Homo sapiens: one gene and its partners. The protein of the gene in region 3 interacts with the protein of the main gene of each other region in a pairwise test. Each region holds a gene or a part of one and is shown on either strand. Other genes may lie near its edges. The genes, in order: SYT17, KCTD9, POF1B and COL8A1.

The links.
Region 1: the proteins of POF1B (region 3) and SYT17 interact in binary tests that used the Homo sapiens proteins (3 or more experiments, as listed by UniProt).
Region 2: the proteins of POF1B (region 3) and KCTD9 interact in binary tests that used the Homo sapiens proteins (3 or more experiments, as listed by UniProt).
Region 4: the proteins of POF1B (region 3) and COL8A1 interact in binary tests that used the Homo sapiens proteins (3 or more experiments, as listed by UniProt).

The regions. Positions count from the first base shown.
Region 1 is NC_000016.10:19,164,123-19,171,243, forward strand, and holds the start of SYT17 (synaptotagmin-17), read left to right. Parts: upstream 1-4,117; 5' UTR 4,118-4,524; coding exon 4,525-4,539; intron 4,540-7,121. UniProt on the Homo sapiens protein: Plays a role in dendrite formation by melanocytes.
Region 2 is NC_000008.11:25,441,415-25,448,442, forward strand, and holds part of KCTD9 (BTB/POZ domain-containing protein KCTD9), read right to left. Parts: intron 4,837-7,028; coding exon 4,715-4,836; intron 2,922-4,714; coding exon 2,878-2,921; intron 1-2,877. UniProt on the Homo sapiens protein: Substrate-specific adapter of a BCR (BTB-CUL3-RBX1) E3 ubiquitin-protein ligase complex, which mediates the ubiquitination of target proteins, leading to their degradation by the proteasome.
Region 3 is NC_000023.11:85,306,655-85,313,682, forward strand, and holds part of POF1B (protein POF1B), read right to left. Parts: intron 1,563-7,028; coding exon 1,470-1,562; intron 623-1,469; coding exon 509-622; intron 1-508. UniProt on the Homo sapiens protein: Plays a key role in the organization of epithelial monolayers by regulating the actin cytoskeleton. May be involved in ovary development.
Region 4 is NC_000003.12:99,641,593-99,648,620, reverse strand, and holds part of COL8A1 (collagen alpha-1(VIII) chain precursor), read right to left. Parts: intron 1-7,028. UniProt on the Homo sapiens protein: Macromolecular component of the subendothelium. Major component of the Descemet's membrane (basement membrane) of corneal endothelial cells. Also a component of the endothelia of blood vessels.

The DNA of each region.
Region 1 (7,121 bases), on a different chromosome or scaffold from region 3:
GCAGTCATAATGGAAGGAAACACTAAATTTCAGAAGGAGGTTGGTGACAATGGTGATGCAACTTTTTTTCTTTCTAAGTTCATGGACCTTCCAAATAAGCCCCACTCCCCATCTTTGGTTCTTTGGGACTCAGCTTAATGTCAGCCCCTCTGGGAAACCTTCTGTGATCCTTCATCACACGAGGTTGGGGCCCCTCACCTGTAACCCCACAGTCCCCTGAGCCTCCCTTTATCACACCACAGGTCACATATAATTCCATGCATTTGTCTACCTCCCTGATTGGGGCCTTCTTCATTGAGATCTGTAAAGGTGCCAGCTTTGCAGGCACAGCCTTGATCTGAGTCCAAGTTACATTGAAAAGCTGGACTTCATGTCCCCGTGAAAGGCAGGAGAGGCTTGCAAAGCAGTGGGATCCTGGAACTCATTGACACTCCCCTGATGAAGGACTTAAACTGATTTCTCGTCCATTCTTTCATCTGACGATGGTGCAGCCATGATGAGTTGAGACTTTATTGCTAACCAGACCTGCATTTTTGTCCTGTCCCTGTCTCTTGTCACCTGTTTACCTTGGGCAACTCACTTTGCTTCTCGTCTCAGGATTTCAGTTTCCTCACCCGTAAACTGGGGACCATGACAGTACCCACCTTGTAAGGCTCCAGTAGGGATGAAACAAAAACAAATGTGAAGGGCTTAACACTCAATCATAATAACCAGTTGTCTGAGAGTTGAAAGTGTCCATGTTAGCTGTTGTTGCAACCCATTTGCTCATTCAACAAGCATTTATCAAACACCTATTTTGCCAGGTGCTTTGCATACATTTAAAGCATTTCATAATACCAGAGGCAGGTTCTATTATCCGCATTTTAAATAACCTCTTCTTTTGCTCGAGAGGTGCTTAGTATTCTTGGACAGTTTCAGGTCATAAGGGATTAAGGTACCAAAAAATTCTGGGGACGGGGTCATCCCCCTCCTCCAAGATCAGGCATTATTAGGCAACATGGTGCAGGGGCTAGGGAAAGGATTCAGGTTTAGGTTTGAATCCCAGCTCCTGGAAGCCACACACACCCTGCAGGGCAGACACATTTGACGGCAATAATTGAACTTAGCTTACCCTGCGAACGACCCTATGGTCTAAGAAGAATGTGTATTCACAGTTCAGAGCTAAGGAATCCGGGAGTGGCCAACCTGGAGATTCACTCCTTATCTATGAAGGATGTCTGGGTCCCCTGCCTATCCCTTGGAATGCAGGCTGTACAGGCAATTGAGGCCCTTGGTTTTGGGTTAAAGAGCCAAAACCCTTGGTTAAAGGGCCAAAAGGAAGTTGCTTAGATAGAAGGTGCTAAGCGAAAATGCTATATAAACTGCATGCTTTTTATATAAACATGTTTTTTATATAAACAATCGAGGCCCTTTGTTTTGGGTTAAAGGGCCAAAAGGAAGTTGCTAGGTGGAGGGTGCTAAGTGAAAATGCTACATAAACTGCATGCTTTTATATAAACAGTAGAGGTTCTCCTGTCCAGCCAGCTGCCACTGGATTGTCCCTGTATGTAAGTTCCCTCAATAAACCCTGTGTCTCGTTCACTGTCTCTAGGTCTCTTTTTTGGCCTCCTGGACATGGTACTATTCCTAAAGGAGTTAACAGTGGCCTGGCATGACACGCCTTGGGCAAATGACTTCATCTCTTTTTTTTTTTTTCGAGATGGGGTCTTACTCTGTCATGTAGGCTAGAGTGCAGTGGTGTGATCTCAGCTCACTATAGCCTCAATCTCCTGGGCTCAAGCGATTCTCCAGCCTCAGTCTCCCAAGTAGCTGGGACTACAGGTGTGAGCCACCAATGCCGGGCTAATTTTTGTATTTTGTAAAGAAACTTTTTGTAGGCTGGTCTTGAACTCCTGGCCTCAAGTGATCCACCCACTTTGGCCTCCCAAAGTGCTGGGATTACAGGCATGAGCCACCATGCCTGGCCAACTTCACCTCTTAATGCCTCTTTTTTTCTCACCTAAAGAGTGGGATAGTACTTGTGCCTACCTCATGGTAATCAGAGAATTAAAAGATCAAAATTTGTGTAAAGGGCTGAAAACAGTGCCTGGTACACAGACCTCAAAAAGGGTTAACTTTTTTTTTTTGAGATGGTATCTCATTCTGTCACCCAGGCTGGAGTGCAGTGGCACGATCTCAGCTCACTGCAACCTCCGCCTCCCAGGTTCAAGTGATTCTCCTAGCCTCAGCCTCCTGAGTAGTTGGGATTACAGGCACCTGCCACCATGCCCGGCTATTTTTTGTATTTTTAGTAGAGACGGAGTTTCGCCATGTTGGCCAGGCTGATCTCGAACTCCTGACCTCAGGTGAAAAAGGGTTAACTATTTTTACTTATGGGAACACCTAGCAAATTCCTCGAACTCCCTCAAGTGCCCCCAAGGAGCACCCGTTCCAATAGGCATCCTCCTCTGTGAGGCTCACTCCCCACCTGGCATGCCTTGCCATCAGTGCTGGAGAAAGATTGTGGATAAATACCACAAAGTGGTTAGGAGTGGCCACTTTGGGTTCACTGCTGGACTTGTGGGTTCAAATGTCAGTGCCCTGGGCTACCAGCTGTCAGGCCTTCATAGAGGCTTTACCTGTCTGGGCTGCAGTCCCTCATAAATTGGAGATAATCATAGCACCTCCCTCAGGAAGCAGAGTGAATAAGGCAACAAAAACAATTACTGAGTGCCTACTCTGGCTGGACAGGTGCTACCTAATAGGAGTGATCAAGGTACTGCAGGTTGAAATGAAATAACGCTTGTGAAGTGTTGAGGCGTGTATGCCTGCAGAATCATAAGCACTCAATATGCGTTACGTGCTATATGCTACAAACTAAATATATCATACTAAAAAATGTATAGGTCTGCTAGATTTTTAGACAAAAAATATATGCATCTGAATATCCATCTTTTGTTACTCCCATATTCATTTTCTCATTTATTCCCACAAATCAGCCCTGGAGGATAGGCAGGGTGGAGATTTTCTCCTGTTTTTACTGAGGAAAAAGAGGCACTGGGAGGTTAAAATTAAAATGCTGATAAGCTGGTGTCCGGCAACAGGAGATGACTGGGCATATTAAAAAGAAAACCGGCCCGGCGCAGTGGCTCACGCCCCTAATCCCAGCACTTTGGGAGGCCGAGGCAGGCAGATCACTTGAGGCCAGGAGTTCGAGACCAGCCTGGCCCACATGGTGAAACCCTTTCTCTACCAAAAATACAAAAATTAGTGGGCGTGGTGGCATGTGCCTGTAGTCCCAGCTACTCGGGAGGCTGAGACACGAGAATCCCTTGAACCTGGGAGGCGGAGGTTTCAGTGAGCCAAGATTACCCCAGTGCACTCCAGCCTGGGTGACAGAGTGACACCCTGTGTCAAAAATAAAATAAAATAAAATAAAATAAAATAAAATAAAATAAAATAAAATAAAATAAAATAAAATAAGAAATCCAGCGGAGGGCAATGTTCCACCTCGAATCTCTGAGTGGAGAGCCAGAGGCCTTGGGCTGGGAGGTTTGATGGAGGCCTCTGGGTCCAGGGCGCCCCAGCCACGAGGACAGGCAGGAGGGCGGCGGTGGACACGCCCCGGGGCGCACGCTCGCTGGCGGCCGCCTGCCCGTGGGCAGAGGAGCGCACGAGGCCGGGCACGACGCTGGGTGGCGCTGCCGGGCCGCCCCGCGCTAGACCTGTTGCGTCCAGGGCGCAACTCCGGCAGGTTTAGGGTAAAGGGGCGCTCCGCTCTCTCCGCGCGCCCCCTGCAGCCCTGGACGCAGCACCTCCGTTTGGGACGCCCTACGCCCACCTTAACTTGAGGCTCCCATCCACGCAGCCTCTGCAAGCCTCACCGCAACCGTGCTAGGCGCGTCGGGTGGGGCGGGAATAAAGTTTTTCCAACCCAGTTTGGGGAGAGGGCTGGATGGGAAGGACCCTCCCTGCTGCAGACTTCATGGCAGGCTGCACTGTGTCCCCTCGGCTCCACGGCTGCCCCGGGGGCGCTGCTTTCGGTAGGTGCCAGCCCCCGTGCCAGCAGGATGGGCTGACCTGTGTACCGCCCCCTCCCACCCCCTTCCCCATTCCCATCCCCTCCCCCGCCTCCTGCGCGCTCCGGCCCCGGCGTCTCCGGCCCCGCCTGCGCTGGGGTCGCTGCAGTCCCCGCAGCTGCCCCGGGCTGCTTGCCCAGGCGCCCCGGCCTTATTCCAGCCTGGGGAGCGCCTCGGTGGGGAGCACGGGACAGCGAGGGAGGCCGAGGCGGGGGCCCTGGGCGCCCGATATCTCCGAACCGGGGAGGCGGCCCCGATTCCGAGAGCCGGAACGCAGGGAAAGGCAAGGACGGGGCGGCCGGCGGAGGGGCGGGCGCCGCTCATCAGCCACGCCAGTCACGTCTGGGGCCACCGGCTGCCTTTTTCTTCCTTTCCCCCTTTGCTTTCTTCCCCCTCCGCTGTTGGCGAGGGCAAAGTGGCCGTGGCGGCGCCATGCCCGGGCCGGAGTGAGTGCGCGCGGGCGAAAATGGCGTACATCCAGGTAGGGCTGAGGCTGGGGGCAAGGTCCGGGGTGCGGGTAGGGGGTGCCGCGCCCCCTCCGGCTGGGAGCGCGCGGAAGGGAGGGCCCACGGCTAGGCTCCCACAAACTTGCTTCGAGAAAAAGGGTGCCCGTGCGCGGGCAACCTGTGCAGCAACAGGGGTGCGCCCCGGGAGGAGAGACTGGGGACCCCCAAACCCCGGGATGGAGGGTCCTATGTGTACTCTGCAACGCGCGCCCTTGCCTCTTGGGGAGGGAATGGGGGGTGGGGCGGACTTTTCTTCTCCCCTGCCCCCTCCCTCTCCTTGGCACCCCACCCCAGGGGAGGGGCCGTGGGGAGGGCGGCCCGGGGCGCGCCAGCCACCCGGCCCGCCAGCTGCCGTTGCCGTGGTGACGGCTCCGGCTAATTGGCCGGCGGAGCGAGCCTGAGGCAGCTGTTCCGACCAGGAGGGACAAGGACGTCGTCTCTCCTGGGCACTGGGTGCTGAGGGGTGGGGGACACCCAGAGGCCAGAGGCGCGCTGGTGAAGAGAAGGGAGCCTGTTACTTTACTCCGCTGCATTGGGGTCTGGGAGATGTGGACCCTCTTCACCTTGAAGAAACGTCCCCCAAGAATCCTTGGGCTGAAATAATTCTGAAATAATTTCTAAGCAGCCTTTTTTGGGGGGAGGGGGCGGAGGGGTGGGCCGGGCTTCTTGGTGAAAAGACCTTTCTCCTCTGCAAGAAGGGAAGTGACCGCAGGTCAGCGCCAAGGTCAAGCAGGCAGACCCGCAGTGAGACCCGTTGAGCTGCTTGCTTCTGGCGCTGGCGCCTCTGAGCTGGGCAGAGAAGCTTACAGACTCCCACGTCCAGGGTGCATCTTGGCTCACATCTTGTCCCCTCAGCCACAGCTGGGGGTGCTGCTGGTCCTCCCATTCCCCTCTGGGTCACATATCCCCTCATCGTGTCCTCAGACGCTTCAGCCTGCCGGGAACTCTGTGCTGTGTCACCTGGCGGAGCCTCTTCCATTCATCTCCTGCCTTAGATTCCCTGAATTGGCTTCCCTTTCGTGGAATCGCCAGTTTCTCTTCAAGTTCAATGAAGGTCACATTACTGTCCACCCACTGTGTGCTGAATGTTGTCCAGGGGCTATTGAGTAGTCGCCCAACAAACACTTGGGCGACCGCCTACTAAGTGCTGGCACTGGGGATACAGTGATGAAAACAGCACAGTTCCTGCCCCTCTGGGTGCGCAATTTAGTGAGAAATGAACATGATTACCGGCTCCTGGAGTTCTTAATGGCCGCCTTCAGCACAGAGAAATTAAGTGACTTGCCCAAGGCCACATAGCTGCTTAGGGGTCAAGGTGGGATCTCAAGAGGGGACTGTGGTAGATATGTTAAGCATCTCATATGGCGATGACCCAGTGATGTTGGTTTTCCTTCTAGAACAAGGTGTTAAACTTTGTTGTCCTGTAAAGTGCCAGATACTATTTTTTTTCTCTTGGAGGCTCACATGGTCTCTGTCACAACTATTCCACTCTGACTATAGCACCAAAACTGCTATGGACAGTAGTAAATGAGTGGGCGTGGCTGTGTTCCAATAAAACTTTATTTGCAGGCACCAAAATTTGAATTTTGTATACTTTGCACGAGTCAAGAGGCATTCATCTTTTTTTTTTTTCAACCTTTTAAAAACTCACAAATTATTCTTAGCTCAAGGGCTGTAGCAAAACAGGCTGCGGGGCTGGTTTTGATCTGCGAGCCTTAGTTTGCCAACCTCTGTTTAGAATGCATGGGTTGTCTTTCTTCCTCTTTCTTTCTGGTGTGAATTGGTTCTCTTCCATCGGTGTCAAACACGTGAGCCCAGGAGACCCAATGCCAGAAAGACTCAGCATGCCTGGGAATGTCAGGGCACCCTCTTTCATCTTCTTTGCTTTCTCTCTGCTCCTTGACACTCATCTTGCACCTGGGCTTTGAGAAAGTTGGGGAGGCTGTTTTTCAGCAGGGCCATGAGGTGACCTTGTCTCTGTTCACTTTGGTTTCATAAATGGCCTCTTTTGACCACCACATGTCTAGGAAATGCTTCCCTGTATTCAGAAAATGGTCATAGATTATTATGAAAAAGTATCACTTTATCCTAACATTCTAAAGCACTTTTTCATGCAAGCCCTATGAGGGTATAATATTTTGCTGTTTTGTGCCCTGCTGTACCTGCCGGGACAATACCCAGTGCCTACTGGGTTCCACTAGGTCTTGACAATCACCTAATTCTCATCACAGAAAGGGTGCATTTTATTTTTCAGCTGGACCGCACGCAAGTATTTGCATAGTCAGTGTCCTGTCCCACCTCAACAGCACGCCTTTGAGGTATAGAGTAGCCTTTCCACTAAAGAAGAGGTAACCGAGGCTCAGAGAGGCCCCCTGTCTTGCCCAAGTCACATGATCAGTCGATGGTGAGACTAGGACTCTAGTACTTCCTGGCTCAGCTTGTTGCGTGGCCCCTCAGCACCTTTGGGTCTTGTTCTGTGTATGGTTTGAGTTTTGGCTTTAGAGAGTTTGTGATAAGTGCCTTTGACTATTTCCCAAGCTGTTGCTATTCCCTTACC
Region 2 (7,028 bases), on a different chromosome or scaffold from region 3:
ATAATTGTCCTTATAGATAATGAAAACATGCCAGAAATACCCACAAAATAGATCAAAATTATAATCTAATATTCCAAAACATGCTAAAAGAAGTTTATACAAGGTATAAAACAACAATATAAACCAGGATTTAAAAATTCAGAAATGAGTAGCAAGAACTCCCAAGAGAATTAGAAATAAAAGAAAAATGATTTTTAAAGACTAAAGCAAAAGAAATACAAGAGTGATTAAACACAATAGACAATGACTTAAGGGAAAGAAAAGGTAAAAAAGAGAATAGCTTGAAAAATTAAAAAGAAATGGTCAGACGTGGTGGCTCATGCCTATAATCCTCTGGGAGGCCGAGGCGGGTGGATTGCTTGAGCTCAGGAGTTCGAGACCAGCCTGGGCAACAGGGCAAAACCCCAAAACCCCATCTCTACAAAAAATACAAAAAAATTATCCGGGCATGGTAGCACACATCTGCAGTCCCAGCTCCTGGTTGGGGGCTGAGGCAGGAGGATCACTTGAACCCAGGAGGTTGAAGCTGTAGTGAGCCAAGATCATACCACTGCACTACAGCCTGAGTGATGAAGTGAGGCCCTGTCTCAAAAAAATAAATAAAATAAAAAGAAAGGAAAAGAAAGTTTCAAACATAAAAGACAAGTGTAAAAGATCCACCCTACATACAATAGAGTCCTGAAAGAAGGAAATCAAATCAAAGTGAACAAAATAAAAATGTCAACTTCAAGAGAACTGTACTGAAATTTTAAAATACATACACTTGAAACTATATATTGAAAGGATCCATCACATACTGAGAAAACCAATCCAGAACAACTCAGAACACCAATAAATATTCTACTAAAATTACTGTACTTTAAAGAAAGAGAAATATCCTTTGGGTGATCTATGAAAAATAATCACATAAGAAAGATCAGATTTTTTGAGACCAACACCTCAGGCCAGAATAAAATGCAGTAACATATTTAAGATATTCAAAGAAAAATAATGTGAACCAAGGATTTTTCAATAGCTTCACTGAGGTATAATTAACACAGAACAAGTTACACATACTAAAGTTTATAATTTAATAAGCTTTGACATATAATTTTATACCAAAATTATATAAAGATGGTGGATGGCAATGGCATCTTGCCATTGGAAGATGTCACCGAATATTGTTCTCATAGTATCTTGGAGAGAAATCTACTAGAGAACAAGTTTCAGATAAACACTGGAAACATAACAAAAGGACTGGAGGTAAGTGTACGCTTGAAGAAGTAAAACTAAATGAGTGTATAAAGGGAGACACTATAATATACAATGGCTATATGTTCCGACAATTCAGAAACAATACAATTATTTTTAAGTAAGGGGAGAAGGGATTTAGCATATGAAAAACATTTAACTGTTTTTAGTAATTATATTGGTACTGAAAGTATTGAGTTTGTTACTCTGACATTTTTAGATGTGTTCTGTATGGGGTAAAGTAAATGAGTAATTATGTGACATTATAATTCTATTAGTCTCCATGTCCCTGAAAGTCAGGACTATTGATATAGAAAAAGGAGACACAGATGTAAGACAGAAGAGGATAAGTAAAAACCTTATAATCCTTAATATAAACTTTAAGTACTACTATGAAGCCATGAGTTATTTCATCTATCCATATTTTGTTATATATGACATATAAACTTTATATCCTATAACATACATTATATACAAATTTTATCTCTACCTATATATTTTCAATTCTGTCCACCAAAAGGCATAGCAACAATAATGAACCCAATAGCGAAGAGCCTCCCTAGCACCCAGATTTGTCTTGGAATGACACTTCCCACTAAAAAAATCAAGGCTTGTTGGAAAAATGTTGATCCAGGTCTGAGACAGGAAAAGGTTTTAAGATGAACACCAGTTATTCCAGATAATAAGAAAGCCATAAAATCCAACAAGGTTTGTTAAAAAGACCCGAAGAGATTTCCAGTGGCAAAAAATTAAGACCATCTGAACATCAATAAATGCAGAGGATGAAAATATACCAAATATTTTTAAATCCATGAGTTAATAACAATAAAAAAACCTTAATTGATCATTTTTTATTGTGTTTGTATGCAGTGGACCAATTAAGTGACCATTGCCTGCCAGTCACTGTTAGGCCAATGGATAAAAGAAGATGAGAAGTTCTTGCTTACAGTTTTAAGGTAGAGACAGACAGACAAGAGTATGCACTTACTTCTAAGTTGACAATTGCCTGTGCAACAATCGTGAGAACTACTTCCACTCACCAAATGCAATTAGTATGATGCTTTAAAAAATACTTAAATATTCAGAGTGTGGACTGTATGGATCTAAATAAATCAAATACTTTATCTTCCTTTCGGCCTTTTCTTTTGAGATATACAACTATAAGCTTTCTTCCAAATCAAAGGGTAGTGTGTGTGCACACCTGTGTGTGTGGTTGATACCAAGTCATTTTTTGGCTGATCTGATCACTGTGAAATACTGTCAAACACTACTTACGCAAGCAATATTTACTCACAAATATGTAATACAACACGTAGAAAAATTTTGACATTCACCATCAAAGAAAAAATTTTCAAACAAAACAATTGTTTCTAAGATCAAAACTACCTTACTATGTTACAGTTAATGAATATGTATACCTCCAGAGCATTTTAACGGCATGTAAAACATGCATCTATAATAAACTACGATCATATAGTAAAAAATTTACTTTAACATACCCAATGCAGAATCAAAAAGTGTGAAGATTTGAATACAGCCATAAGATCATTTTTAATGTTTAAGCTTAATAGCCCCATTTAAAATAATTGTCATTCCATCTTTTTTTTTTTTTTTTGGCAGATAAAATTGGCTTTTAAAGTCACTTACCAATAAATGGCTCTCCTTCACAAACAAACAAAACATCATCATCCCTGGGGAAATCAAAATTTAAAAAGCTACCATCAAAATCTAAAAATCACATTAATTATCTGTTGCTTATAGGAACTATTCCTTACAATTATATAGACAATAGGTTTTGCTATCAATCTAGACTGCAAAGAAGCTAAGTTTCCAATGCTTTGTTTAACCCCTTGAACTTAACTGTCTTTGAATTTAAATTCAAAAATAAGATCTTGCACATGAAAGTACTTTTGAAATGTGGGGAAAAAAATCTCCTTACACAAACGATGTTGAGTTCAGCTTTCTTATCAATTGAGAATGAATAATTATGCTGAAAGGATAGATTAAAGTCACAGCCAACTATTCTTTTTTTCTTTACATTTTTTACCCCTAAATCATCAGCTGTTGTGTGCTTTGGAGATGAAATAAACTGTCATATTAAATCTAGGAAAAATATAGCTGGAAGTAACTCTACTGTCAGTGTTTACCCACTACACATCCACCATACACCCAAATGTAAATGGCTGCACATAACCCAGAGTTCTGGACAATCAGTGCACATCCTCTTCCTCAACCCATTACCCCAGATACTGTATTGTGAACCAAAAATGAATAAACAGATATCTTATAGCTCAGAAGGCTTCAATTATAACCTTCCATTGTAGACGTTTTTATTTCCTATAGGACATCACAGGACACGTTAAATTTTTCTAAGAAGCAGAGTTCGTGTTTGTTAAGAAGAAAGTTAGGTTGATGAGGATCATCATCCAACAATGTGACTCAGTTTTCCTTAGAAACTGAAAGAAGCTGGGAGATACATATTGAAAAACTAAGAAGTTATCCTAATTTATTTGGATTTAAAATGTAGTGTATAGTATTTCCTACTTGTTCACCATGCCAGTTTACTTTTTCAGATTAGTATAAAAATCTGTTTTCATTAACAAAACCCAACTAGCTGTATGACCTGAGTGAGTCCTCAGCTTCACAGGTAATTCGTTTCCTCATCTGTAAAATGAAGGGTCTAGAACTGATTAACTGCAAAGCAGTATATTATACTGAAAGGTCATTTTGATCTAGATTTATACAGAGACTTTGTATATCATTATAGGTTAAAGCATCATTATCTTCACATCACTGATAAAAAAAACTCATGTTTTGCCAATTAAATGGTATAACTCAGGCAAAGCAATGATAACATAAGTGGCATAGTCAATACTTAATTTGTGTTCCCTTTACCATCTTCTTTGTTAAGCATCTTCCTGCTCCAAAATTCTCTGACCTCATGAAGATGAAGTAAGGTGAACTACACACTTGTTTTAAAGAGATAAATCTGCCTGAGATATTTAAGGTACAAACATAAGCCTATAATTATGGTGGATCACTGGTGATATCACTACTTAGAATTCTATCATATTTATAAAGTTTTTACAAAATCTGGCCTTTGTAATGATTATAAAATGCAAAGCATTCTTAGGAAATGATTAACAAGCAGGCGCATATAAAAGTGAAGAGATGAATTAGATTTTTAATGTTAAAAACTGCACGTCTTACTAGATCCTTCTCTAGTACCACAAAGAAGAAATTCCTCATAGCTATATATGAACTATGCAGAAAGACTATCAGTATACTGAAATGTACTAAGGGTTTTCTAGCTGATCAATTCACCTTAAGCCCAAATGATTTAAATTCCAAAGAGCAAATTCTAGGTAAACACTTGCCAAAATCCTGTACTCTTAACAGTGATTAAATTACTGCTTAAGGGAAACAGCATAGCACCAAGAAGTTGAGGCACACTGTTGACAGCTTATAAAAAGGTGAAGGTTACCTGATCAAAGCAATATCATCAATCAGTCCACCTTTCCCATTATACACACTGGTGGCTTTTATGCCGAGTTTACTGCTGGCCACAGAAAGCAAATCAGATAAAGTTCCATATACAGCAACCACCTGTAAACACACCAGAATAATATGAACAATTTCTTTAATACATGTTATCCCCCATAAGTTATAAACTACCACACTAGAACAGTGCTAAAAAGATTATCATATAAAAGGAGACTTCAAAAGGTTCTTAACAGTGCCCCCTTTTCTTCCATGACTCATTTATTCACTTGGTGCCTAATATTGCCGACTCCTCAACTAGAACATAAGAAATCATCTCTGACCAAAACAATCTACAATCCTAAGGTGTGTTAAATAGCGCTCCAGTTGTGAAGTAAGATAGACCTACACTTCGATCTAGAGTCTGACATTTTCTAGCTGTCAACTTGAGTCAACCTACTGATGCTTCTGTTGCTTTAACTAGAAATGAAGAAAATAGTAGCACCTACTTCAGAAGGTATTATGAAATGAGTTCATGCATAAGAGCTTAGCAAAGTGCCTGAGACCTAGTAAGTCCCTATTATGTTGTCCTTTTATTATTTATTTATTTGAATGGTTCATCCTTAGAACAGGAGTGTGCTGGTACTGTTTATTATATCATTAACGACATCAACTACCACAGAAAAGATAACTTCTCACCTCATTTATTTAATTCTTCACTAACTAAGCCAGATTTTAGCATCTAACATTTAAGAACAGAGCAAACAGCTGGGTGACAATGAATTGATGTGTCCTGCTGTGAATCAAGCAGTCTGATATATGTGCAAGATACATGCAACTGTCTAAGCAGGGTGCTGAGAATTTCTACATGTAAGTGAATTTTGTGCCCTGGTCCTAACTGTAACTATGGGTTCCCAGCGACTGAGTTGTGCAGTTGCACCATTATCAGTTATGACCTCTGAAAGTTAGGAATAAAAACTAGGTAAGGGTCGGGCGCAGTGGTTCATGCCTGTAATCCCAGCACTTTGTGAGGCTGAGACGGGCAGAGCACTTAAGGCCTGGAGTTTGAGACCAGCCAGACCAACATGGAGAAACCCCATCCCTACTAAAATACAAAAATCAGCCAGGTGTGGTGGTGTATGCCTGTAGCTACTCCAGAGGCTGAAGCATGAGAATTGCTTGAACCCAGGAGGCAGAGGTTGCAGTGAGCCAAGGTTGCACCACTGCACTCCAGCCTTTATGACCAAGCAAGGCTCTGTCTCCCCGCTAAAAAAAGAAAAATAAGTAGGTGAAGAGCTAAACACGAAGCACAGTCAGCTAGCTCATGGACGTCCCAAGATTTATTATGTCAAGATGCCATATGAAGTGAGCACTAAGGCTGGTCCTCTGTCCACCAGTGACTGGAATAGAGTGGACAGTTTCTAGTTAAATAAATACAGTAAATGGAGGACATGGAAAAAGCTGCTCGATAACATACGAGTGTGCAGTTTTTCAAAAGCAGAGTACTCAGATTCTAACTTTTTTCTCTTGGATCAGAAGGATGAAAGCCAGAAGAGTGCTGGGGCATTTTGGAAAGTGTTGAAGGCAAGAAAAATTTAAGCGGAACCAAGTGCATTATAAAAAATAATGTACAACCCAAGTGTCCATAAGCAGGTAATTGCATAAATAAAATATGGTATATATATACAATGGAATATTATTCAGCAATAAGAAACAATGAGGCCAGGTACAATGGCTCATGCCTGTAATCCCAGCACTTTGAGAGGCTGTGGCAGGTGGATCGCTTGAGCCCAGGAGTTCGAGACCTGCCTGGCCAACATGGTGAAACATGGTCTCTACAAAAAAATACAAAAAGTAGCCAAGCATGGAGGCACATGCCTGTAGTCTTAGCTGCTTGGGAGGCCGAGATGGGAGGATCACTTGAGCCTGCCAATTCAAGGCTGCAGTGAGCCAAGATCACGCCACTGCACTCCAGCCTGGACATGATGGGACGGAAAAGAAAAAAGGAAAGGAAAAAGAAAAGAGAAAAGGAAAGGAAAGGAAAGAATAAAGAAAAAGGAAAGGAAAGCAAAGCGAGAAGAGAAGAGACATGAATTCTGACACATGCTGCAACATGGATGAACCTTTTTGACAGTATGCTAAATGAAATAAGCCAGTCACAAAAGGATAAATATTCTATGATACCACTCACATGAAAGTACCCAACACAGGCAAATTCATAGAGAAAGAAAGCAGAATAAAGGTTACCAAGGCATAGATGGGAATGGAGACTTATTTCTTAATGGTTACAATTTCTGTTTGGGATGATGACCAAGTAC
Region 3 (7,028 bases):
TATTTACATGACAACTAGTAACTGAGCAAGAATTTGGGACAGCCATAGGAGTAAAGATCAGGAAGAGGGTAATCCTTAGAGACTACTTACAATTTCCTAGGAATTCTCTCTGCTCAGACATCCAGAGAATTCATCTAGAGTTTTTTCAGTCATTTATTTATTGCACAAACATGTATTAAGGTCTACAACAGCTTTTCTCATTGACATGTTAGTACATTAAATAAATGCATGAACCTAGATTTTTAGTATTTCTACAATTCTGGTCACCCAACAAGACAAATAATTGTGTCCCATATGTACTTTATATCTAAAATAGATAAGATTATCTGTTTTTCTGAGAGGGCTTTCAGCCATTAGAAATACCCAAAGCCACTCAATTCTCATATGAACAAATTTTTCCATCATATTTAATTCTGTCTTGATTATATCTCATAACTCCAATGTGCCAGTAATTGTGCATATGAAAAGCTATCAATGTAGATTAACACCAATAAAAGCATCAGTTTACCTGCTGCTGGTGATTATTTGCTCTCACTGATGCCAAGAGTTCTTCGTACTCTTTTAATTGAGTGTCTTTGAATGATAAATCTTTCTCAAGTCTCATCTTGTCATTTTCCAGTGACTAGAAGCATAAATTATTTATTATGATTCAGAATTGCAAAAACTTAACAGTCACATAATACAAAGACTTGCTTACCTTGGAAGATTTAAATAAGCACTTGTTTCATTTGTACTTGCTTAATAAAGCAGAATTCTTAAAAGTTAAGAAAATACGGGATAGGAAATGATTGAAACTTCTAAAACCTTCATTGAAAGAGACATTTTGATGGACTAACTATACATGAAATGAAGCACAACCCTCTGAAATGTTTTAATGTTTTCCTCCAATCTACAAAGAGTCCTCGTTAATCCCAGCGAGTGGTAAATTTTTAAATTAGAGTCTAAATATGTTCATCATAACCCAGAAACAACAAAACTACTCCAAAGTCCTCAAGGCATTATTCAATGTGTGGAAAGCATTCTGAATGTATCTAGCTGATGGCACCAAGAACACCAATTAAAATAGAAAATGGAAAAAAATTAATTTTTTGGAGAAAAATGTTTTCAAGTTATTATATTTGAATGGAAATTCAGAGTATGCTTTATAATTATGAAAAAGGGGGAATTTACCTCCAATGAGTCAGATTATTTTAACTTTGCAGATGACTCTCTGGCTTTAAGCATTAAATTGCCTTAGTGGTAAACTAAATGATAAGTGCACATCCAACATTCTTTCATTTATACTTTGGATACCTCTTTTCTCCTCTCTCAATGCCAATTAACTGTTTGAAGAAAATAATTTAGCTTTGTCTGAATAAGCATAATATTGTGCTATATTAAATTTTAAAAACATATACTGGACATCTTTATTTCTGTATTAGGAAGCTAGTAACTAGAAAGGCTTTGGAAAAAATCAAAATAAATCTTACTGTCATATCATTTTGAAGATGTCCAAGCTCCTCCCGTATGTTGCTAAATGTGGACAGCACTAGTCGGAGTGACTTATCAGACATACCCCTCATCTGCAGGAAGAAAGGATTAATGGTTTAGTTTTATTAACATTTGAAAATAGGCAATATAAGTGAAAGTTTTTTTTTTCCTACTAGCAAACTTATTAATAATTTTACTTTGATATGGCAAATTAGAAAGGTGATATAAGGCATTTTGTCAATAGTGTGTTTAAGTAATCCAAATAATATTCCTGAAGATAGCATAGCTAGTATTTATAACAAATATTTATTATTTTTTCCATGATAAAGTATCATCTTTGTCACAAAGTAGAATTCTATCAGCAAAATTTAATTTTTACATTATTCTTTATTTAAAAGATTAGAAGAGATGAGACAGTCAATAATCAAATAATAAAATGAATCTCCCTAAGTGTATTGCCAACTGCCTGAATTTTGCCTGAGGTGAGAAGAATATAATTATAATTAAGTTTAACTTTAAAGTATAGAGCTATCTAAATATTTTTGGTTTTTTTTGTTTTGTTTTTGTTTTTTTACCAGAGTCTCACTCTGTCGCCTAGGCTGGAGTGTAGTGGCATGATCTCAGTTCACTGCAATCTCTGCCCCCTGGGTTCAAGCAATTCTTCCACCTCAGCCTCCCAAGTAGCTGGGACTACAGGTATGCACCAACACACCTGGTGAATTTTTGTATTTTGAGTAGAGAACGGATTTCACTGTGTTGGCCAGGCTGGTCTCGAACTCCTGACCTCAAGTGATCCACCAGCCTTGGCCTCCTAAAGTGCTGGGATTACAGGTGTGAGCCACTGCACCTGGCTTATCTCAAATTTTAAAGAGAGGGGAAACTCTTTTACTAGATTATTCTTATTTCTTTAAAGAAAAATGGTTTAAAAAACAGACAACTTCAGCTTCTGGGAAGATGGAGTAAAAATACTTTCCACAACCAATCAGACGTTGTTTAAGGTTTAACTTTGTAACTTCAGCCTCTGATTGGTCACTTTCTGCAACCAATCCGACTGATAACGGGCCACTACTTCATTTACATAGAGTGTACACCAAGTTACCAATGGGAAACCTCTAGAGGACATTTAAACCACATAAAATTATATAACTGTGCACTTGAGCCAATTGCTCAGCCCACTCCCACCCTGTGGAGTGTGCTTTCATTTTCAATAAATCTCTACTTTTGTTGCTTCACAAAAAAAAAAAAGAAAGAAAAAAGAAAAAAAATACTTTTCCCTAGCCTTCCTGTTAATTGCAGCTAAAAACCCTGGACATTATATATAAAACAAATATAAAAAGACCCAAATTGGTGAAAAGAGAAATGATTGGTTAGGAATCTTGGGACCTGAGAAATGACACAGCAGTGAGTTCCTGGATTTTCTTTTTGCTTCATATATTAGATCAGTGTTGGGCAAGCTGGTGATCTAGTTACATCAATGGACAACAAAAGTCCTGAGAAAAGCCTTCTCTCTCTAACCAAAGGACCATGAAAGGGTCAGCCTAGCAGGACAGAAAACTTTTAGATAGTAACCACTCTATCTTAGCCAAACACCACAGAAGAAATTGCAACTCTACTTCCACACGGACCACCAAAGGCCAAGAAGAGAGCTTAGACTGCCCCCTTGTCAGGCTCTAGGGAGGTACACAACACCATTCACTGGGATGGTGTCAGAAAAGACAGAGTGAAGAATGGTGCTTTCATTCCTACTGGCCAAAAATGAAATTCCATGCACTGTGATGTCAGTTGAGACTGTGAAGGGAGCTTGGGCTTTCACCCTATCGCATCAAGAGAAGCTGAGTGGGGGAACCTCAACTTCCACCACCAGCTGGCAGTAATAGGTAGTGCACACACTTTCTCTGATATTTGAATATTTGAATGAGACCCAGAGAGTCACAACATAAAAATGGCCAGGTCTCCCATCCAAGTACTAGCCAGGCTCAATCCTGCTTAGCTTCTGAGATCAAACAAGATCAGACATGTTCAGGGTCAATTGAAAATCACTCATAATTCCAAGAACAACAAAAATCTCAACCAATAAGAAAAAACACTTAATTGATGACAACATCAAGATAATAGAAATGTTAGAATTATCTGATAAAGTGTATAAAACAACCATCATAAATACTTCAACAAGAAGTTGCAAGGAGACTGTAAAAACACATTGTCTCAATGACAAAATAGAAAGTCTCAGCAAATAAATAGAAGACATAAAGAATACCTAAATGGAAATTTTAGAACTGAAAAGGACAGTAACAAGACAAAGAAACAAAAACCAAACCAAAACAACAAAGCTCTCAAGGAGTGGGCTAAAAAGCAGAATGGAGAGAACAGAGGAAAGAATTAATGAACTTAAAGATAGAATAAAATAAAGTATATAATCTGAATATCAGAAACAAATAGATTAGAAAAAATTAAACAGAGCTTAAGGGTTTGTGGGTGTACACCACATATCTAGCTTTCATGTTCAGAGTCCTGGAAGGAAAGGAGAAAGAGGATGGAGCTGAAAAAATATTCAAAAAAATTATGGCTGAGAAGTTTCCCAAATTAGTAAAACCTGGTAACATACATATTCAAGAAGCTGAGCATATCCCAAACAATATAAACCCAAAGAAATCCATTACCAGACAAATCAGAGTCAAACTTCTTAAAACTAAAGACAAACTAAAAATTTTCAAAGCAGCAAGAAAAACATTAATTATTGGGAATAACAATTCAAATGACAACAGATTTCTCATTACAAATCATGAAGCCCAGAAGGAACTAGGATACTATTTTTTAAGTACTAAAAGAAAATAATTGTCAACTGTAAATTCTATATGCAGTGAAATTATCCTTTAGGAATGGAGGGAAATTCACATTTTCAGATGAGGGAAAATGAAAATAATTTGTTACTAGCAGACCTACCCTTAAAGAATAGCTAAAAGAAGTTGTCTAAAGAGAAGAAAATCATAAAAGAAAGAATTTGGAATATTAAGAAGGAAGATATAGCATTGTAAGCAAAAATATGGTAAATACAATAAGTTTTCCTTCTTTTCTAGAGTTTTCTTTTTTTATTATACTTTAAGTTCTGGGATACATGTGCAGAACGTGCAGGTTTGTTACATAGGTATACACGTGCCATGGTGGTTTCCTGCACCCATCAACCTGTCATCTATCTACATTAGGTATTTCTCCTAATGCTATCCCTCCCCTAGCCCCCCACCCCCTGACAGGCCCCAGTGTGTGATGTTCCCATGTGTTCTCACTGTTCAACTCCCACTTATGAGTGAGAACATGAGGTGTGTGGTTTTCTGTTTCTGTGTCAGTTTGCTGCGAATGATGGTTTCCAGCTTCATCCATGTCCCTGCAAAGGACATGAACTCATCCTTTTTAATGGCTGCATAGTATTCCATGGTGCGTATGTCCCACATTATCTAGTCTATCATTGATGGGCAATTTGGGTTGGTTCCAAGTCTTTGCTATTGTGAATAGTGCTGCAATAAACATATGTGTGCATGTGTATTTATAGTAGAATGATTTATAATCTTTGGGTATATACCCAGTAATGGGATTGCTGAGTCAAATGGTATTTCTAGTTCTAGATCCTTGAGGAAGCGCCACACTGGTTGAACTAATTTACACTCCCACCAATAATCTAAAAGCGTTCCTATTTCTCCACATCCACTCCAGCATCTGTTTTTTCCTGACTTTTTGATGATCGCCATTCTAACTCACGTGAGATGGTATCTCATTGTGGTTTTGATTTGCATTTCTCTAATGACCAGTGATGATGAGCATTTTTTCATGTTTGTTGGCTGCATTAATGTCTTATTTTGAGAAATGTCTGTTCATACCCTTTGGCCACTTTTTGATGGGGTTGTTTGTTTGATTCTTGTAAATTTGTTTAAATTCTTTGTAGATTCTGGGTATTAGCCCTTTGTCAGATGGATAGATTGCAAACATTTTCTCCCATTCTGTAGGGTGCCTGTTCACTCTGATAATAGTTTCTTTTGCTGTGCAGAAGCTCTTTAGTTTAATTAGATCCCATTTGTCAATTTTTGCTTTTGTTGCTATTGCTTTTGGTGTTTTAGTCATGAAGTCTTCCCCATGCCTATGTCCTGAATGGTATTGCCTAGGTTTTCTTCTAGAGTTTTTATGGTTTTAGGTCTTACCTTTAAGTCTTTAATCCATCTTGAGTTAATTTTTGTATAAAGTGTAAGGAAGGGGTCCAGTTTCAGTTTTCAGCATATGGCTAGCCAGTTTTCCCAGCATTATTTATTAAACAGGGAATCTTTTCCCCATTGCTTGTTTTTGTAAGGTTTGTCAAAGATCCAATAGTTGTAAATGTGTGGCATTATTTCTGAGGCCTCTGTTCTGTTCCATTGGTCTATCTCTCTGTTTTGGTACCGGTACCATGCTGTTTTTGTTACTGAAGCCTTGTAGTATAGTTTGAAGTCAGGTAGCATGATGCCTCCAGCTTTGTTCTTTTGGCTTAGGATTGTCTTGGATATATGGGCTCTTTTTTTGGTTCCATATGTAATTTAAAGTATTTTTTCTAATTCTGTGAAGAAAGTCAATGGTAGCTTGATGGGGTTAGCACTGAATCTATAAATTATTTTCAGCTGTATGGCCATTTTCAAGATATCGATTCTTCCTATCCATAACAATGGAATGTTTTTCCATTTGTTTGTGTCCTCTCTTATTTCCTTGAACAGTGGTTTGTAGCTCTCCTTGAAGAAGTCCTTCACATCCCTTATAAGTTATATTCCTAGGTATTTTATTCTCTTTGTAGCAATTGTGAATGTGAGTTCACTCAAGATTTGGCCCTCTGTTTGTCTATTATTGATGTATAGGAATGTTTGTGACTTTTGCACATTGATTTTGTATCTTGAGACTTTGCTGAAGTTGCTTATCAGCTTAAGGAGATTTTGGGTTGAGACGATGGGGTTTTCTAAATATACAATCATGTCGTCTGCAAACAGAGACAATTTGACTTCCTCTCTTGCTATTTGAATCCCCTTTATTTCTTTCACTTGCCTTGTTGCCCTGGCCAGAACTTCCAATACTATGTTGAATAGGAGTAGTGAGAGAGGGCATCCTTGTCTTGTGCCGGTTTTCAAAGACAATGCTTCCAGCTTTTGTCCATTCAGTATGATATTGGCTGTTGGTTTGTCGTAAATAGCTCTTATTATTTTGAGATACATCCCATCAATACCTAGTTTATTGAGAGTTTTTAGCATGAAGCGGTGTTGAATTTTATCAAAGGCCTTTTCTGCCTTTATTGAGATAGTCATGTGGTTTTTGTCATTGATTCTGTTTATGTAATGGATTATGTTTATTGATTTGCATATGTTGAATCAGCCTTGCATTCCAGCGATGAAGCTGACTTGATCATGGTGGATAAGCTTTTTGATATGCTGCTGGATTCAGTTTGCTGTATTTTATTGAGGATTTTTGCATCGACGTTCATCAGGGATATTGGCCTGAAATTTTCCTTTTTTGTTCTGTCTCTGCCAGATTTTGGTATCAGGATGATGCTG
Region 4 (7,028 bases), on a different chromosome or scaffold from region 3:
TTATGGACTAACTTTTAGCCCTTAAAAATTACCCTAGGGAGAAATGATGTTTTTTGTTTTGTTTTGTTTTTTGTTTGTTTGTTTTTTCTTTTCTAATTACACAGTCCTTACTTTTTTGGCTCTGAAATGACAGCATGCTTTTAGATTAAAAAAAACAAAAAAGAAAAAGAAATTAAAATCACTGTATTAAACAAGAAACAGAGCCAGTAAGCAGTGTCTAGGAACAGAGCCACTAGAATTCTCTCACTTTCTTTATGAGTCAGAGGCGTTGTCATAGGAAGTTTATTTTTATTTTTTTCCTCCATGATAGGACAAGACATCATGAGAAGCAGCACAGGCGGGCAGGAAGACCATGGACTTTGGACTGTGACCTGGATAGAAGAACCTGCTCTGCCTCTTCCTAGCTGTGTGGCCCTAGGCAATTTGCTTAACGAGTGGAGGCTTAGTTTTTCTCATCGTTAAATTGGGAATAATAACACCCTTCTTGTAGGGTTGACATGGGGAATATAGATAACGGGACTAGCACAATATCTGGTCCTGTTAGATAACAAATAGCTTTTATTATTATAACCATTAATGATGTGTTTGAATTTCTCCCTTCTCCTTTAGATGACTATGAGCTACTTATTTTCTGAAAGCAGAGGGTGCTCAACTGTGCCACTTACGGGATACTGACCTCCAGGCACTAACTTTGTGAAGTGGAAAGATAATTCCCAGAGTAATGTCCTAAGAGAAATAGTAAATTGTATGGAGTGGGAGGTCTGAGTGTCATAGATAAACTAAGTAATTCCTCATTCAGTAAATTACACCAGAATATCAGTGTGTTCCTCCTACAGAAATTAGCTCCCTATTGATGGTGAGAAAGCAAATGCTCAAAGAAAATATTTGGCCAACGATCTTGGTTAGTTAATGATAGTAAAGATAAAGCAGGAAATTAACAGCTCAGAGACTGATGAGCTAGTTCAAAGAATTATCTAGGCTCCTTGTTTATTGAACTTATTGCTCATTGTTGGCCGCTTCTCTCTATACAGTATCCAGAGAGTGGGATGGAAAGGAAGAGACAACTTCAATTTGTCCAGTGTTCTAAAGATTTTTTGGGTAGAAGTGGAGGTTGAAGATATGAGAGAGAGAGAGAGAGAGAGAGACTTGAATAATATTTCTGGCATTCTTGCTATTATTGTAATAAAGAATTGAGCCATAGAACAAAGGCATGTTATCTGCTTCTTTTGTTCCTGTTTCCCCTGGGTTTTAGAAATCTCTCTACATATCTTAGAGTGACATTCAGTATGTATTACTTAACAACTAGCAAGACTGAAAATACCATGTTCTGACTGATCTTGAAATAATGCTGCAGGAAGTGATTCTTAAACTATTCTTAAGCTGTTCCGTAGAATATCAGTCCCAGGAGATGCGCTCAGGCAGGGTAGATATGTCATCAAATGTTTAAGGAACACTCGATTGTAACATCTTTGAAGGATGAAAATATATATAGCATATAAAAATTTCTGTGAAGCCATACAGTGAATAAAAATGTTTAATATTGTTTCATTGAGTGTTTCTAAAGCTTATTTGACCACAGAACTTTTTTCTGTATAAACACTGATGAATCCCAGGTAGCAGTGTTTTGAAATGCACTTTGGAAAATGTTGAAGCAAGGGATGCAGAGATTTTATACAAAAGTCATTATTAAACAGTTATCTTTCTCCAGTTAAAATAGAGTTTTTAGATCAGAAACCCTGTATTGTATGTGAGAAATTCCCCTTTGGCTGGTCTCAAAATACAGATTGGTAAGAATATAAGCCTTTTAAGACTCTTTAAGCCATTTTCTAATTATTATTTGTTTTTTTACTTTCCACTTACCCTTGATCTTGTTTGGCCTTTTGAGATATGTGGGATTGACCTCTGTATTCTGAGAAACAAAAATGCTCTTGCTATATCTTGGAAGGTTATGTGGCTACTTGACATTTTATCCCATTTTGACTGATTTTGTATAAATACTTTGAGCCCTTCCTAGTTATTGTAAGTATAATCCATTTACCGTACTAAATTAGTAACCGTAAAATGCATGCTTAATTAGTATCTTTCTGAAAAATACTTGACAGGACCTCACATGTCTCTAAGTGGTAAAGAAGGTAGTTATTTAAAAATTGTTCTGCTTAAGATAAATAAATTAAGGCACAGAGACGATCAGTGACACGCCCCTTGCCCCAGAGAGAGTCAAGGTGTTTTTGAAATTAAAACACTGAAGATTTTCTGGTGATTCACAAGTCACATGCACACCAACTCCATAGCTTCATCTCTATGGACACAAAAAATGATCTTAGAGGATTGCTGTTTTGCTGTGAATGTCATAATTTTTACTAAGCAAGCAGCTCTCCTCTGGTGTGCCAAGGATTTTTTTTATGGTCCTAATTGATCTCTATCCCCCAAAGGGTTCTGAATTATGCAAGTGTCTCAAGTCTTAACAAGCCATCCCCACACAGCTGTGCAATGGAAATGTTCAACAGAAAGGTATTCACTTCAGTCTAGGCAAGACCCTGGCTGCTCCCTGGAGAGACCCAGATTTAGGGGAGCAGGTTCTGGACCCTCTGGGTGGAGAAGCCTATTTGGCCCATTTCTGTCTTTTTTTCTCCCAGCTCCCTTCCCCTTACTCCACTGACAGGGAGGGTCTAGTCACCGCAGGCTTCCTCAGTCTTTGTGCTTGTCTCTCACTGACCCCCAGCTGCCAGGCTTTGTTTATTACTGAATTGAGCATTTAGATTCAGTCTTGGCTGGTGGTAGCCTTGGAAAGAACATTTTCTAAGATTGTTTTAGTTTTCTTTCAAATAAACTTCCACAAGCCCGGACATTTCAGGCATTGCTAATGCCAGAAATGTGGGTGATTTATTCTTAGAGGCTTAAATTAGGATTTTTTTTTTTTTTTTAAAAAGAAAACTAACAATGTGATCTACTACAATGGCATACATTTTAGCCATTGGTTGTAAGGGACACTTTGCTCTGCCTTCGATCCGAAAAACTTAAATCTAAAGGCCCCTTCTGGGACCAGATCAGTTTCTATTGAGACACCCAGCCCCTGGCTCCCTCTACTGGTGAACAACCTCCCTCTCCATTTGGGCAGCAGGGGATTGTAATTAACTGGGGGCTGGAAAAGGGACTAGACATGTCCTTAAACTAGAACTGTGGATCCAATAGCATATTTTTGCCACAGATCCCCTTTCTTTCCTCATTCTTCCAACCTCAACAATCTTGGCTACCTAACTCACAAATTCTTAGCTCCCCCTAGTGCCCTCCTTCATGTACTTTTTGGCTTTAATCTTATGTCTGCCATTTAACAAGAAGTCGCTTGTTTGGATTGATAGCATTGATGAACACCATGACTCCTGGACTTTAAGACTGGGCAATCGCTAAGTAGATCATTAAAGAAATACAATAATGTACAATCATCACTGAATTTATGAATGAAGTTTAGGCTTATCGTCAGAGTGTAGACACCATGCTAGTTGGAAGAAGATCCTAAATGGGATGTTGGCTTGAAAATGCGTCCCACCTGCCCCATCACAGTGCTCTTCGGTCAGCTGTTAATATTTGAAATCCTCCTACTGAACTGAAGGCAGCTGCAACTTAACCCCTCTGCTGCCATAAACTAGCCATAATTGCCTTAGAACACAAAGCCTCAATTATGCAGGCCATTGGCCCAGACTTCCAAAAAGCAGCTGTTTTATCTAGCTAACAGAGGGGACTAGAGAAGCTCCCCAATAGGCTAGATACATGTTATTTCCTAGAGAAGTTGACAGCTGACACCCACACCCAGGCCTATTTAGTTAGAGTTGGAAAAGTAGCACATGAAGTGATTGTCTTCAGTCTCAGCACATCAAATGATCCAATGCCTAAATATCCTGTGATGTAAACACATCAATTGGAAGCTTAAGAGGGACAGTCTTCAAGAAAGACTTACTTAAAAGAATGTTTTCACAGTGATGCTTAGCCATAGACTGTGTTAAATTTAACATATAATAGATCGATTTTAGAAACACACTTACTATTTCGGAGATATGGAAATAATTGTCAGGCATGCTTCAGAGGAAAGTGAAGAAGCATCTGGGCTAACATCTGTCTGCTTATTCAGGGTAAATTGTTTACAGAAACAATACAAGAATATTCTTTCCTGCCTTCGTCACTTTCTATGATGGAGTGACTTTATGTGTTACCAATAATTGTGTTGTTATTTTAGCAGAGAACATTTCAATGACTTGACATCCATGGAGTTATTATCCTGGGTCAGAGTCAAGTCTAAAAGGAGGTGAAATGAGGTTCCTTTCCCACTTGAGGGCCAGTCAAATGATAAGAAGAGTTTTAATAGATATGGTACTTATAAAGCTTTCACACCTGTGTCATCCAGGCTTCAATTAGTGTTGTATTTAAAGAACCCTGACTCAAACAGAAAGTCATCTCTCAAGCATTTGAGAGGGTCTGGTTTTGGACAATGCTATTAAAATCTCTTGTAGCATTTCAAAACTCTTGGAGATTCTCCCTCCTCTGTTTCAGAGGAATAAACTCTCTTAGCTTCACTGTCTTGTCTCTATACTCTTAGTCCCTTGATCACCTCTCCCCTCTGCCCCTCTGTTACAACAAATCTCATACCTACACATTCTGACTGATGTGTCCCTTAATGTTTTTCCTGATTATCCATTATGGGTATTTTGCTCTTTCTCTCATTAGAGGCCGAGGAAGGTACAAAATGGTTAAATTGGCAACACTTTGTCTGTTGGGTGGAAGAGGAGAGTTACGCTGTAAATCTCACATTCTAATTCATTTGTTCTCTCAAATGAATATTGGAACTAGATCTTAAGCCTCCTGTAAAAAATAATACAGTTTCTAGAACTCAAGTAAATATGGGAAGAACTAGTGAGAATATTGCAGACAGGAAAACGGCTTAGCCATTGCTAAGGCTAAAATGAACTCTTCTAGATTTCCCAAAGCAAGGGAGAATCTTAAACTCAATACATTTGAGACCTGAGTCACTGTATGTCTGTATAGACTGTTTTCTACGAAGTAAAATTTACTTTGTAAATCCATTACTTTGTAGAAAGTAGTTTTATAGACTATATTTTCTACAAGTAAGAAAGGAGTTTAGGAAAATGGATATTTTATACTTAGCTTTTTTCCCCATTCATTCACCCACTCAACACAGATTTACTGAGCAGCTACTATGTACCATATCCTGGGCTGGTTAAAAACATACCATCCCTGTGATGGTGATGACCATTGACTTCACTCTTCACAAGAATTTATGTCAACGTGTCCTAGACATTTGGTAGTAGAGGTATAGCTGTAGTCCAAACCTCTACCAAGCTATGGTTTCTGAGAGCCCTGTATGTTAAGTGCCTACGGAATGCTCAGCATAGTCAAAGACACCTTAGATTCACATTATACGAGGAGCCACACTGCAGTTATTCAAGATTAAGCACTGGCTGGAGAAACTGGCTGTATGAACTCCAGCCTTGGGTGTGCTGTACTCATCTGGGTGGCCTGGGGAAAGACATTAATCTTTCTGATCTTTTGCACCTGTAAAATTAACTTTTAGTTACAATTAGCTCCAAGGTCTTTTCCAGCATTTATCTTTTATGATTCTCTAAAGTTTTTTTAATTTCCAAGAAGTTATAATAAGTACTGGATAAGTAAAATGGCTTTGAAACCTCATCTCAGATATTCTGTTGGAGGCAAGTAGCAATTTTAAATTACTTTCTTCTAGGTATGTGAATTAAAGTTTAGAAAAATGTGAAGCTTTTACATTTGATAGGGTGAAAATTTATATCCTATTTAAGAGAAGTATGAGGAAATTTTTGGTAATGAGAGAAGCCACAAGTATGAGTGGTTCTTTAGAAACTTGTTCTATGAGAATTAAAAAGAGATTTTTTCCAGGGAAAGAACAAAGGAAATGTCACAGAGGGACTATGACTGCATCTGCACATCCTGAAAGGTTTGCTGAAGGAGAGAAGGGTCAGTTTTTGTTGTCCAGGAGGGACGATGGAAGTGAGCCCCAAATAAATAGAGGACACCGAAGGTGAATTGTCAGGTGTGTGTTCATATTTTACATAGTCAGCTAAAGTTGTTGCTTTTGCTCTTATCCTACATTGAGAAGTTAGAATTCATTATTTTTATTTTTATTGATTACTCTGTGATCAGTTTTGGTGAACACTTTTTGTTTTATTCACTTCAGTTTGATCTGATGCAATTTCAATGGCTTCATGAATTTGAGTACACACGACTTCAGGCTTGTAGACATTCTAACCTTGTGTGACTCCCTTTAACCCCATTCCTGCAAATCTGCTTGAGGAAAAACTATGAAGAACCTTCTCCCTCAAACAACAAATGGAGTTACTAAAGTGATAGAGGGATCTCTCATTAGCAGCTTTTCTCTGTTTGTGTTGAAATGTGGTTAATGCTCATACTTCTCACTCCTTATCTCTCTAGAAAGGGGAAGTTTAATAGAGCTATAATTTAGTAGTGTGGGGTGTAACCTGCTGTTAATATCTGCCAGGTCACTGGAAGATCTTCTTCATTATATTCTTAGCATTTTGTGACAACTTTTGAACAGGTTCTTTAAATAAATGTGTATTCCCAGATGCTTTAGGGATTGAGATATCCTTTTCACACAATGCTAAAAAGAAAGATTCTCTAAATTCCAAAGGGCATTCATTCTCCCCTTAATTCTCCTCTCCTCTCCTTTTGGTTTTCTTTTCACTCAATAGTTAGACCAGTGCACCTTTCACAAGAATACACTCAAGTTTCAAGATCTGTACCTTCTTTAACTTATGTACATGTATGTTTATAGGGGTCTGGTTGAAGAGAAGGAGGTCAAGGCAGAAACACCTAGCTCCCAGAGGGTTACTTGGAGGACCAGAGGTTTTAGGAAATACGGTGTGTCTCAATCTGTCTGCAAGTTTCCATACCAAAGTGAGTAACCATGGATAAGGAGTAAATTGCTGTTTCTAACTTTTAACTTACAAATAAGCACTCAACATTAC